Homo sapiens: one gene and its partner. The protein of the gene in region 1 interacts with the protein of each later gene in a biochemical or structural test. Each region holds a gene or a part of one and is shown on either strand. Other genes may lie near its edges.

Region 1 (7,028 bases):
TAAAGAACTTTTCGTTCTCTTTATTTTGAAATGTAGAATGCCTGTGAGCAAGACTGATGGATCTCCACACTCTGCCATCTCTCTACATCCAGTTGTTCTGGATCAATTCAGATGTTAACTTTCCCTCTTTTAGGCTACCTCCTATCCCCTGCCCGATGGCTGGCGAAGAGGTAGGTTGAGGGAGCTGGCAGACAATAAAGACAATGTTTGCTGAGCCTCTTGCTTCTCGCTCTGGAATCAAGCACCCACAAGACTGCTTTCAGCAGAAAGATGACAGCAAGCTTTGCTGCACTTTTGAATATCACTTAGACTAACAGAGGCCTATGTAGGCACCCTCCCACCTGAGGCCCACCAGGCTACTCACCTGCTAGGACTTCTGTCCGTTTAAACAGACTGTCTGAGTGTTTCTCAGTATACACATTTGTATCCTCTTCGGCTGGGTCCATTTTCCTTTCTGAGTCAGAGAGGTGAACTTTCTCTTTATCAGTTTCTTCAGGTGACTGGTATGGGAAACAGGGAAAGATTACATTGATTTAAGGAAATGTGTTGGAAAGAAGAAATAATAGATGAGTATATTCCAAAATTTTTTTTTCCCCCAAAGAATGAGTTTAGGAAATAACTGGAATAATCACTTGTGTGATGTTTATAGCAATGGGTGAGTGTCATGATGGACCCATGTAGTTCATGGTTTGCACAACACCCATCGCATGATCAGGCAAGTCGGAGAGCTAGTGAGTTCATAATAATCCTAAGGACATGGTGAGGTTGTTTTAGTGGACATTTCCTAAGATTTCTACTTTCTCACCACTCTTCTAACTGCAGGTCACCATCTCCCTCTGACTGCTCCAACCCAACAGCACTGCCCCAATTCTCCCTGCTCCTTCACTTCTGAACTACACAGGGCACTAGGACAACAGTTCCCTTTCAGATATTCTCTCACGCCTGACTGGGCTTTTCCTGTCCCCACTCTGTGGGGAGCAATCCCCAAGCCTTACTCCTAATGCTTCCCCCTAGTTATATTACCTTCAGCAAACCCTAGACCAGGACTTCCAGGGACTTGGATTGCGCAAGTAGCTCCTCCCTGATCACATCATACTTCTTTTCTCCACCTTGATTTCCTCACCTGTCTAATGAACGACACTCACTGGGTCTCGGACACTGCACAATGCTCAAGCAGAAATCTATGGGAATACCTCTCACAGCCGCATCTCTAGTCAGCATTATTCCCAACAAGCCAGCAGCCTGCAGGACATTAACTGTTGGCTGTACCACCTTTAACTCTACTCGTCAAGTCTAAGTAGTAATTAATTCACTGCTGAATCAGATCAACCTCCTTTTCTATTCCCATTAATGGCACTGTATTTTGGGGTGTTACCAAGTTATCTATTACGGCACATTTTCTATCATATGTTTTCCATGTCACAGCACTGTCAATTTGCCTCCCATCTTGCTCTCACATTAACTTCTTCCCTTGGGTTCTCATTTCCACAGCTTCGTTCAGGTGGCCAGCACATCACAGCCCAGCTCCCATCCCGCATCGACCTCAGAACTGCAGGTGTTGGGTAGCTTCCAGTCCTCACCCAACCCACCACTTACTCCCAGTAGAAAACCCTGTGAGGTCATTTCCACCACCTCTTCATTATCAAAAATGGTTCTTAGTATCTGTGCTGTAGTTTAGCGGTCCCCAATCTTTCCATGAATGGGAGGGTGGGGGGGATGGAGGGGGATGAAACTATTCCACCTCAGACTCTCATAAGGAGCACAACAGGCACAGTTCACAATCGCGTTTGCGCTCCTAGATCCTATGGGAATGGCACGCCTCCACTGATCTGACAGGAGGCGGAGCTCAGGTGGTAATGCTCACTCACTTCCTGCTGTGCAGCCTGGTTCCTAACAGGCCACCGCTACTGGTCCGTGGCCCCAGAAGCGGGTGGGGAACTCTGCTCTAGTTCATGCAGTTCTATCCCCAGTCCAAATGTTGCACTTCTTTTACTATCTGTTTGTCCTTAATGAAGCCTTCTCTGACCTTTTACCTCACTAAACCCCCAGGATTATTTACACAGAAATTATCTCTTGCCTTTCTAACTCTCAGCACCATCACTGGCCATCTTATGTGAATCACCCAAGGTTACGCTGATCCACATCACCTGAAAGGCATTAAAAAAAATACAGTCCTACTACTAGAGGTTCCATTTCAATTGGTCTGACTTCAGGTCACCATCTCCCTCTGACTGCTCCAACCCAACAGCACTGCCCCAGTTCTCCTTACTCCTTCACTTCTGAGCTATACAGGGCACTATGTAGCTGGCACTGACTTTTACTGCTATTTAAGTTCTCCAGACAATTCCATAGTTTAAGAACCAGTGGATTAGAGAAGTCCCATTCAAAGGAGTTGTTCATTCTCTAACAGTCTGAAGTTCTTGTCGGCCAGCATCACTGATGAAAACACTGTCAACTTCATTGAGGTTTAAAGGCTAAAGGTGGCTGGGTAGGGAGCCCAAGGTGAGAGGATCATTCGAGACCAACCTGGGCAACATACTGAGACCTTGTCTCTACAAAAAAATTTTTAAAATTAGCCAGGCATGGTGCTGTGTACCTGTGGAGGATCTCTTGATCCCAGGAGTTGGAGGCTGCGGTGAGCTATAATTGTGCCACTGCATTCTAGCCTGGGTAACAGAGTGAGACCCTGTCTCAAAAAAAATACTGCAGACAATAATCCTTCTCAGCTCTACTACTCTTCCTAAGTTCCTGAGAGCTTCCTACCATCTTCATTAGGACTCCACAGAGTCTAACATACCATGGCTCAGCAAAGCAAATGATTGCTTTCTGAAGGCTAGAGTTCATCCAAAATGGCGGCCTGCTAGTTAAGTCTAGAGGCTTAAAGAGTGTAAGAAGAAAAGACCTCACACCTTCTTGGGCTGTGCAAGTAGCTCCTGTGGGACCCTGACCACATCATACTTCTTTTCTGCACCTTAAGGCCACCCTCATTGCTAGGAAGGACCATAAGCTAGACCAGGTGGATCCATTTGTACTCTAGGGTATGTAAGATCAATAGGTCCCTGTCTCAGTGAGCAGAACGCTACACTTCTACTGAAGGTGGTATGTAATAAAGTATAATAAAGAGTAACTGTCATTCCCAAATTGCAAGAAACCCTGTACTACCTAAACTTCAACCTGCCATGACTTACAAAAAGCAGAGGCCATAGAGAAATTTCATTTCACTGGTGCACAATATGCACTGAAAATGTCACCGTCCTTTCTATTACTATGAGAGAAGGAAATACGACAGGCCTTCCCAGGCCTTCAGGTACCAAAGTAAAGCAGAAGAGAGCAGCTCATTGGCAGTATTTTTGCTGAGATTTTTCTATTCTTCTCATGAAAAGCCCATCATTAATTGGCTGCCTTGTGGAAAGACAGACAACAGGTCAGAGAATGGATTATCTGGGTTCTAGTCTAGAGACCTTTTCACTGCTCATTAGTACTGCTTTACTATTACAAGTTAGAAAAGGGAAGAGAAATCTCAAATAGGTGAATACTCAGGTTTGTGACTAGGGAGAGAGGTAAACAAGTTCTGGTGAGAAATGAAATGGACCTAAGTAGTTACTGTAATATGAGAGACTGAGTTTAATTCATCCATATCCATATCATCTTTGTCCCATTATTATTACAAATCATATGGTTTCACCATGTGATTGAGTCCCTAAAGTCATTTAAGAGAGTTGATCTTTTCAGTTTCCTCTGACTCAGCCTCTGATCCGGCAGGCTGAACAAAGCGTGCAATCCAGGGATCTGAGAGTGTGGGAACTGAAGGACTCCACAGAACTGGAGCCGCCCTGCAGCTGGAGGTGCACAAGCCTCAAGCGGCTCTGGGTGGAAAATTCATTTTTTAAGTCAAAATGTTTTATCGTATGGAAGCAAAGGCTTGACTAAGAAGATACCATTTGGTAATATGGAACTAATCTGAAATACCTTCACTCTTGTATGAATGTATGTGCAAAATGAATCCGCAAAAAGACAGCAGGGATGATTAAATGAGGCCAAGTAAAGATCTGCCACATCCATGTCTGGTTGTTTGGATGCCATGGAAATGCAACAGAAGTAAAAGCTTATGAGTGATGCTCTTCTCAAACAAATAACGAGATTCCCTTTTGTGCATTTTAGTCACTTAAATTTACAACAAACTAGATAGGATATCCGTAACAGTGACATTAATGCCACTGTGAGACCAATTGAAAAGCAAAATCTACACTAATGGTATCCTAGAGGCAATGTTCAATTCGGCTGTACCACATAAACAGCAAAATGAAAAATTTAATCATTATTATTCATGTTATTCATGATCAATATTATCATTATCAGTGCTGCAAACAGTGTTCGACACATAATGAATAGCACTCAACAAATCTCCTATAAATGGATGAATTTCTACTATTACTATATTGAACACAAATGATAGTAAGAATATAAATGTATTAAAATCTTTTGGGCTCCTTAATTTTTAAATTCACCTGCCAAAGTTCTACATTTTTTATCTCGATCTGATGCAATTACTTCCTTAAAACCAATTTTTAAAAACTTAAATTAGTGGTCAATCCATTGCTGTTAACAAACCAGACAGAACTCTATGTCAAATTAAGTCTTGCTTAGGATAGAACTCTCTATCACTACAAGCCAAAACTCACCCAGGAGAGTTGCTTCCCTCAAGCTAGTGAGTCCTAATTGTCTCTGACTTCAGCAGATTTAGTCAAGAGAAGTGGTCAAATAAAAATGTGGTAAGAGCCAAATGCATCTTTAGTAAATAGTAGCTAATTGTGCCACACACACTCTGAGGCAGTCATCGTACCACCAATTGCACCTGCACTTTTCATTTCTCCCTTTCTTTTTTTGTTTCATTCACTCAACTGAAACATTGATACAGTAGCTTTTATGCATGGATCCAGCACATGCCAGGTGAGTCGGTCTCAGTTCTCATAGGGCTCTCCCTGCCTTCCTACCGCCTGGCTTGTGAAGTCTACCACTAATAGTAATTGACCCTTCTTGGTCCTACAGAAAGCACTTCAATTTGGACAGGGCTGGCTTCCTGGCTGTTCCACATCTGCAGAAACCCATCCAGCGGTGCCATTCACCATTCCAGTCACAGGCACTGGGAGGATGGAGGAGGAGGAAGAACAAAGGTACTCTGGGGCAAGGGTAAGAAAAGCCCACATGCATTCTGGCCTGAAGACGGGATGATTCTTACTCCAAGGAAGGCCTGTCGCCACCTTCATCAAACAGCCTTCCATATCCATACCCTGTCTGCTGCTAAAGCTTGGCAGCATCTCATTTCTAATCAACAGATGGGTGAGCTCTAAAAGGGGATGCTTGTGCTTCTGAGTTTTCTTAAGCCATATGTTACCCCTGCACTGATTGCAAAGTCTACCACTACAGTTATTACACATGCTCATTTGGTGAATTGGCTTGGTCTCTTCTGCTCCACCAATTCAATTAATGCTTACAGAATGGTGACTAGGTCTCAGGTGCCATGCTACATGCACTCACATTTCATCTTCTTCAAGGCCCATAGGAAATGGGTTCAGAAGCTAAGAAACCTGACTGGATCCAGGATTTGAAACTTAGGTCTTTGCCAGACTTTAATATGCATGTTCTAACTTCAGTGGGTTACCTATTAGTGGATGGTCAGCTAACTGCAATATTAACGAGGTCAAAATCACAAGCTCCAAGTTTTCATTAGCTGGTCACTTTACTCAGGTCTAAGGCCAAAGACCTTATTCTTAATAAGTCAGCTCTCAAAATGAATATATACAGATGTACCCAGGTTCATCATCATCGAGAGAGGTCAAGGATTACATAGTACTGATGGTCGGCCTAGGAAGACTGAGAAATGACTTAGTGAGACTAGGACCACCTCAAGACGTGACCTGGAGTCTTCTAATTACGTAACCTACAAACCAGGAAACCAAAGAAACAGGGCTTTACTTCTTAACTGGGCTTCAGACGTTCCTTAAGAAGGAGGGCCATGTGAAAAATAGTTGTATATAATTTGAGCCTGGATGACAGAGATTATAAGTGGGTAAATGCCAAAATGATCAAAAAGAGTAAGGAAGAGCCATTTATAACACCACCTGAAGACCATTTGTCCTTACACAATTTTAAGTGGGGTCTTTTAAAAGAACTGTTGTGTACATAGTTCATGATGGGTAGCTCCAAAAAGAAGAAAATAATACAAAAGGGACTGTTGTGTACAGTCAGTAAAGTGAAGCATTTGTAATAACCTGATAATGCAATGCAATGGAAAATAGAACGCACCTTTGTCTGAGCAGGTATCTTGTTCTGTATATTCAGCGTCGTGGTTTCCACTTTTGGAGCAGCACTAGTCAACAGTATCTTTGGAAGTGGTCGAGATGTTGTCAGCTCTGGACTCTCTACATCCTCATCAGCTCCTGGAAAAGTAAGTGAAGATGAACTGAGCATGGCAATCATGACACAGATGTCTCCATTATCAGGCACTATTGCCTGACGTTGACACTGACAGAATCATGTTCTTTCAAAATGCTGGCTCTTTAAGACTTCAGCACAAAGCTTCCTGTGGTCTTCACCATGATGAAGAAGTGATTTCAAAGGTGTCTGTGGGTAGTCTAGCAAGTTTTTCCTTAATAGTATTATCCTGAACATTCAAGTAGCCCTTCTTTCACTTGCATGTTCCTTTTCTCCCTGCTTGACAAGATTTTTTCCCATCTACACTGAAACGTGCTCCATTTCCATTTTAAGAACACAACAGTCCAGGTGCAGGGGCTCACGCCTGTAATTTCAGCACTTTGGGAGGCCGAGGAGAGCGGATCACGAGGTCAGGAGATCGAGACCAGCCTGGCCTATATGGTGAAACCTCATCTCTACTAAAAATTCAAAAATTTAGCTGGGCGTGGCGGCGCACGCCTGTAATCCCAGCTACTCGGGAGGCTGAGGCAGGAGAATCACTTGAACCTGGAGGTGGAGGTTGCAGTGAGCAGAGGTCACACCATTGCATTCCA
Region 2 (7,028 bases), about 38 Mb from region 1:
TTCATTTTCATAGCAGAATAATATTCCATTGTATGTATACCACATTATATTTATGCTGTCATCAGCTGATGACATTTGGGTTATTTGCACTTTTGGCTATTATAAATAATGCTGTTAAAAATGCCAATGAGCATTTGCATTGTTAGCAAATAATATGTAAGTTTATATACTTTTTTAATAAATGCATCTTTAATTCTCTTGGAATATAGCTAAGCATGCAACTGCTGGGTCATATGGTAACTCTAATACCATCCCCTTGATGATTACAGGATTCAACATATGAATGGAGGGACACAGTCACAAACATTCAGACCATATCATAGACCACTATCATATATGATTTACAAATACTTTTCTTATTCTGTAGATTGTCTTTTCATTTTTTCTCACAGTGCATTTTGCAATATGAGGTTTTTAATTCTGACAAATTTGAATCTATATTTCTTCTTGGTTGCTTATGCTTTAGATATAACATCTAAGAAACTACTGCCCAACTCAAGGTTATGAAGACTTACCCTTATGTTTTCTTCAAAAAATGTTATGTCTTTAATTCCTGCATTTATATCTTTGATCTATTTTATGTTAATTTTGTACACGGTGTGTGGTATAGATCCATATTCATTATTATCCATGTGGAAACCCAGTTATTTCAGCACCATTTTTTGAAAATAACATTTTTGAATTGTCTTCGCATCGTTATTGAAAAGTGATCATAACTGTATGCACTTATTTCTGCAATCTCAATTCTATTTCACTGATCTATATGTCTATCCTTATACCAGTACCACACATTCTTGAGTACTGTACATTTGTATTAAGTTTTAAAATCAGTTAATGTGAATCCTCCCACTTTGTTCTTTTTCGAAATTGTTTTGGCTATTCTAAATCCCTATCAATTCAGTATCAGTTTTAGAATCAGTATATCCATTTCTGTAAAAAAATAAAAAGTATCCTTAAATCTGAAGTGAGTCTCTTATAAACTGGGTATAGCTGGCTCTTGGTTTTATTTTTTTAATCCATTCATCCCCTCTATGTCTTTTGATTGGAGAGTTTAGTACATTTAAAGTTATTACTGATAGGGAAGGACTTACAATGACATTTTGTTAATGATTTTCTATCTTGAAACTTTTTTGTCCTTCCTTTCCTCTCTTGCCATCATGCTTTTTGTTTCACTGTTTTTTTTTTTAATAGATATGCTTTGATTCCTTATTTGTGTGTGTGTATTTTCTATAGGTATTTTCTTTGTGGTTACCATGGAGTTTACATAAAACATCTTCTAATAAACCTATTTTAAGCTGATAATTTCAACTGCATACAATACTGCTTCTTCTCATCCATCCCCATACTGCATTACTGATGCTACAAATTTCATCTTTTATGTTGTGCATCTATTAATATTTTTATAGTTACAGGCACTTAAACTTTTGTCTTAGACTTATATATCAGAAATAAGTGATTTACTCACCACCATTACAATAATATGCAGGTCTCTATTTGTCCATAGCTTTATCATTTAATTTTATACTTTCATGTTGAACATACTTTTGTTTCCATTTAACAGACTCCCATTGGCGTTTAAGTCAGATATAGTGGTGATGAACTCTCTCAGATTTTGAGAATCTTATTTCTCTTTTACTTTTAAAGAAAAGTTTTGCCACATACAGTACTTTGCTGGCAGTTTTTCTTCCAGCAGTTTGACTATATCATCCCACTTCTTTCTGACCTGCAAGGTTTCTGCTAAGAAATCCACTTAGAGTCCCACAGAATCTCCTTTGTATATGACAAGTTGTTCTTATCCTGCTGCTTTCAAAATTCTTTGACAATTTGATTACAGTGTGTTTCCATGTAGATGTCTTCGGATTGTTCTACTCTGGAGTCCATTTGGCTTCTTGAATCTGGATGTCCACTGCCTTCCTTCAGTTTGGGAAGTTTTGGCCAGTATTTCTTCAAATAAGCTTTTTGCTCCTTTCTCTTTCCAACATATGGAACTTCCATACAATCTACATTGATAAAATTGATGCTGTCCCATTAGTACTCTAGGCTGTCTTCATTCTTTTTTTATTTTTTTTCTTTTTGCTTCTCTGACTGGATAATTTCAAATGACCTGGCTTCAAGTTCACTAATTCTTCTCCTTGAAAAACACTGCTGCTAAACTCCTCTAGTAAATCTTTCAATTTGGTCAAAGAAGCATATTGCATCTGTTACAATGTTTGTTTGGTTCCTTTTTACGTTTTCAATCTCTATGTTGATACCATTTTGTTCATGCAGCATTTTCCTTGGGTCACTGAACATGTTTATGGTGGTTAGTCTGAATTCCTTCTGAGATAATGAAGATATCTGTGTTTCCTTAAAGTAGGTTCCTGGATATTTTGACTCTTTGATTGTGCCATGTTTCCCTATTTCTTTGTGTGTCTTTTAACATCATGTTGGGATCCAAGCATTTGAAAAAATATCACCCCTCCCAGTCTTTGTGGTCTGGCTCTGTACAGAGAAAGATCCTCACTGATCGGCCTGACTAGAGATTCTGCATGCCTTTTGAACCTTTCCTGAGGATGCTTCTTCTCGACCAGTGTGTATAAATTCTCAAGATGAACTTGTTCGTTTCCTTTTTCAGGATCTCATAATCTTTTGCTCCCTGTGCTATCTGTCTGTGGTACTTCAGGTTCTCTGGAGCTGCTGCAAGCCACCCAGCTCTCTTGTTTTCAGAGGCCTCCAACCTGGTGCCCTTTCCCATCAGTGGGCTTTTAGAGTATGTCCACTCCTGCCTGTGCTCCAAGTCAGGTGAAACAGAAGCCAGTCCCTTGGGGGTAGCTCTCTGAAGTGCTGGAATGTTGGACACATACTCCACTATTCTCTCTCCAACACCTTTCATGCCACACGTAGGGACAAGCTGCTGAGCTGTATCATCCTCTGTCTGCCCTACCATAGGTCCTCTAGAGCAGCAACAAGTCTTCTGTTCTCAGTGGCTCCTGGGCACCTGGAATACACCAGCCCCTGTCAGCTTTCCAAGACAAGCAAGACAGAAGCCAGTCCCTCAGCCCACTGAAAAGGTGAAACACTGGACACACATTCCAACTCTTTTGTCTCCCCAAGGAGAAGCCAAGAGTTGAGGATTTTCTCCTGCTGGTTTCATGCTGAGGGAGGGGGAGGGACCATGGTGAGTGCCTGCTAATCTAAACTGTCAACTTTGTTTTCAATGACCCCGCAACCTGGTGCCCTTTCCTGTCAGAACTTATATTCAAGCAAAATAAAAACCAGACCCTTGGGCAGACCTCTGAAAAATCTGAATGTCACACAGATGTTTCAGTCTTCTCTTTCCCCGCCCAGGGAAAAACCAGGAGCCTGGAGTTTCCTCTTGCTCATGCCATGCTGAGCCAGGGGAATGAACTATGGTGAGCAAGTAGGATGAATTTTCCTACCATCTTCACTGCAGCTGGTTTACTGCTCACCTAGAATGCAGGAGCCTCTTAACTAGTTTCCGGATTTCTCACAAAGAGGTCTGGTGTGTGTATTGTTATTGAATCAGTATTTCTGTGGGGAGAAGAAGCATATGAGCTTTCTATTGCACCTTCTTGCTGCTATTACACATCTTTTGTTTCTTTTCTAATTTCTCTGGCTATAATCTCCAGTACAATGGTGAATAGTAGTGGCCTGGTACAGTCCTTAAGGGAAAAACAGAATCTGGGTTTGTGAGAAAAAAAAAAAAATTCACATTCTTGAGAGAGCACTATCAAATATGATTTAATTGTATTAATCCAGGAGAACAAAGTGAATTATCTTCTTTGGGTTCAAAGGATCAATTTCCTAGCAGCCTTTCCCTAAACACAATTTTTTGCCTTATTTAAACTTTCAGCCATTCTATCAATATAAACAAAATGCATATGATATATAATATACAAAATGCAAAGCAAGTTGCAATATCAACAACCAAAATGCACTGAAAAGAATGTTACCTGGCCATCTAATATTATTTCTATTTTTGATTTCTTTTTTTGATTCTGTCATTGGCTAACTTCAAAATCCCACTGTTCTCATGAAAAATGAAGTGGTTTCCTAACTTTTCTCTCCATAGAAGTTTCTCTTCAAATAAATATTAACTGAAGTTGTCTGAACAACTCTTGAGTTAATTCACACACCAGCAACTCAAGCCTAGAAGAAAAATGGACTTTCAAAATTTTTTTTAAATAACAAATATTACCGTAATTTACACTTCTGAAAAAGTAAGTTTCAGGTTTGCTTTAAGTGTACTGATCTTAATTAACTCTCACTGTTTTTTAAATCACAAAGCATTCCTCAATTTTACTTTCTTGACCCATTTCATTAAATTTCTTTCCACGTATTAAAATGTTGTAGCTGCAAACCACTGACTATTTGCCACCCAGGTCACATGCTTCCATGCCTGCATATTTTTGTAAAAGGTGCATTCTCTTCCAGGAATGTCCTTCCAGGACTTCTCCACCAATCAAAATCCTAGTTAGCCTTGAGGCATAGGTCAAGTGTCACTTCTTAAAAGAGGGTGACTTTGAAGGCTTCAGTTGGATATTATTTGCTCCTCCCAACTCCTCTCAACTCTGCCTCAGATTATAGCTAGTACATGTTTATCTCCACTACTTGAAGGCAGGACTCAATTTAGTTTATTTACACAGCATAAACACTTTTTCCTCATCCTCAAAGATATCAAATGTAGCTGGGCGCAGTGCCTGTAATCCCAACAGTTTGGGAGAAAAAGGTAGGTGGATCACTTGAGCCCAGGAGTTTGCGACCAGCTTGGGCAACATGGAGAAACCCCATCTCTACAAAAAATATAAAAAACTAGCCAGGGACAGCAGCACATGCCTGTAGTCCTAGCTACTTGGGAGGCTGAGGTAGGAGGACCACTTGAGCAAAGGAGGTTGAGGCTGCAGTGAGCTGTGGTCACACCACCACATTCTAACCTGGGTGGACAGACTGAGACCCTGTCTCACCAATAAAAAAAACTTTTTAAAAAGAAGATACCAAATGTTAGTATTTTGACAAATGTCATCAAAACAACAGTAAATAAGATATCTTTAAACACTTATTGAAAAGATCAAAATATTCTTAGGGCAAGTCCGTACTTTTGAACCTAACAGTGTAAAAAGCCTTCCAGGAAAATGATAAATGCTTTATTTTTCTGAAGGGCTCCATTAAGTCACTTGTACATTATATTTAAATCTTTGACCTAATGGGAACTGTTAGAAACACAGCCCTTTTTCAAGAACCACAAAGCTAACTCTGGGAAATCCTTCTAATTGTGGCTGGAATTTTATAATGACCAATAATGAGGTTTAAGAGGATTCTGAAAGTAACTATTACATCAGTGGAAGAATCTCATTTTACCTCACTTGCAACTCTTATCAAACATTATTATTGTACGAACTAAACTAAAGAATTTTGTTTCTAGGCTTTCCTTCGAGCTGAGTAATCACTAAGAAGATAAAACTCCCACTACTCTTTAAGGGTTTGATCAAACCTTCCTGACCACTACAGCTTTTTTCCACTGGCCTAATTCCTTGGAAAGAAATGGTACTGCCCACATACCCTTTGACCAGGTTTGGCCCACACTACATTATTTGCAATCTCTGTGACTCACTTCATGCATTATGAAAGGCCCCTACACCCAATGTATCTCAGGCCTCAGAAGTAACTCACAAATAGTTTCTATTAAGAGATCTTTCAGTGGGTGGGATAGTTTCGGACTTTTTCAGAACACCAAAAGGCTATATATATATTATATATGTGTGTGTGTGCATATGTATTATATATAACATATATAATATGTATTATATAATATGTATTATATGTATTATATATAATATATATTATATTACATTATATTATTATATTTTAAATATAAATATTTTTATATTTATATATTTTTATATATCTATATATTTTATATATTTATATTTATATATTTTATATTTATATATAATTAAATATAAATATCTAAATATAAATATTTTAAATATAAATATTTAAATATAAATATTGATTAAAATTAATATCATTTTCCTGGAATATATAAATAATATAATATTAATATATAATAATACTATATTATATTATAATATACATTATAATTATATATTATAATATTGTATATAATATATACTATATTGTATATAATAGTATAATATATAATATATGGTATAAATTATACTATACTATACTATATAATATAGTATATAATAAGTATATCTTATATACTTATAATATAGTATATAAGATATAGTATAATAGTATGATATACAATATATATTATGTTATATATAATATATAAATCATTATATATTATTCATAAATAATATATATTATATATAATTAGAATATATTATAATACGTATTATACGTATTATAATATATATGTATTATATATGTTATATATAATACATACATTTTATATATATATGTATTTATATATTGTCTGCCTCAGTACCAAGTTTCCCATTTGTCCCTCAACCCCCTCAGGGCAATATAAGAGTAACCTCCTTGAAGTCTTTAAATATGTGTACAGAACGAAGGCCCTCAACTTAAATACTTATGTGATATTTTGGAATTCTAGTTTATTCGCTCTCTGGACACAATATTCTGATTAATGAAGTAGGAAACACTGGCAAAGTTTTCCAAATAATATCACCTAGAATGGCAATACTCATCATTTTCTGAGTTATTAACCTCACCCCTTCTCAAACCACCAACTACAACTGGCCTCCCTTAAAAATGACATGTGACTGTTTAAGGTGAAATAATGTTTATTTGCTTCTTTTAATCTAAGCTATTAAAACAGGAGTTCCCAACCCCCGGGCCATGGACCAGTACCAGTCGGTGGCCCATTGGGAACCAGGCCACCCACAGCAGGTGAGTGGCAGGTGAGCCAGCATTACCACCTGAGCTCCAGCTCCTGTCAGATCAGTGGCAGCATTAGATTCTCACAGGAGCAGGAACCCTATTGTGAATTGTGCATGCAAGGGATCTAGGTTAAACGCTCCTCGTGATATAGTTTCATC

What was found. The genes of interacting proteins can lie anywhere in the genome.
Region 2: the proteins of SDC2 (region 1) and SDCBP form a complex in vitro, tested with the Homo sapiens proteins (3 studies listed by BioGRID and IntAct, with this or other methods).

The regions. Positions count from the first base shown.
Region 1 is NC_000008.11:96,601,807-96,608,834, reverse strand, and holds part of SDC2 (syndecan-2 precursor), read right to left. Parts: intron 6,441-7,028; coding exon 6,307-6,440; intron 501-6,306; coding exon 365-500; intron 1-364. UniProt on the Homo sapiens protein: Cell surface proteoglycan which regulates dendritic arbor morphogenesis.
Region 2 is NC_000008.11:58,556,233-58,563,260, reverse strand, and holds part of SDCBP (syntenin-1), read right to left. Parts: intron 2,978-7,028; exon of another isoform or gene 1,514-2,977; coding exon of another isoform or gene 1,466-1,513; intron 1-1,465. UniProt on the Homo sapiens protein: Multifunctional adapter protein involved in diverse array of functions including trafficking of transmembrane proteins, neuro and immunomodulation, exosome biogenesis, and tumorigenesis.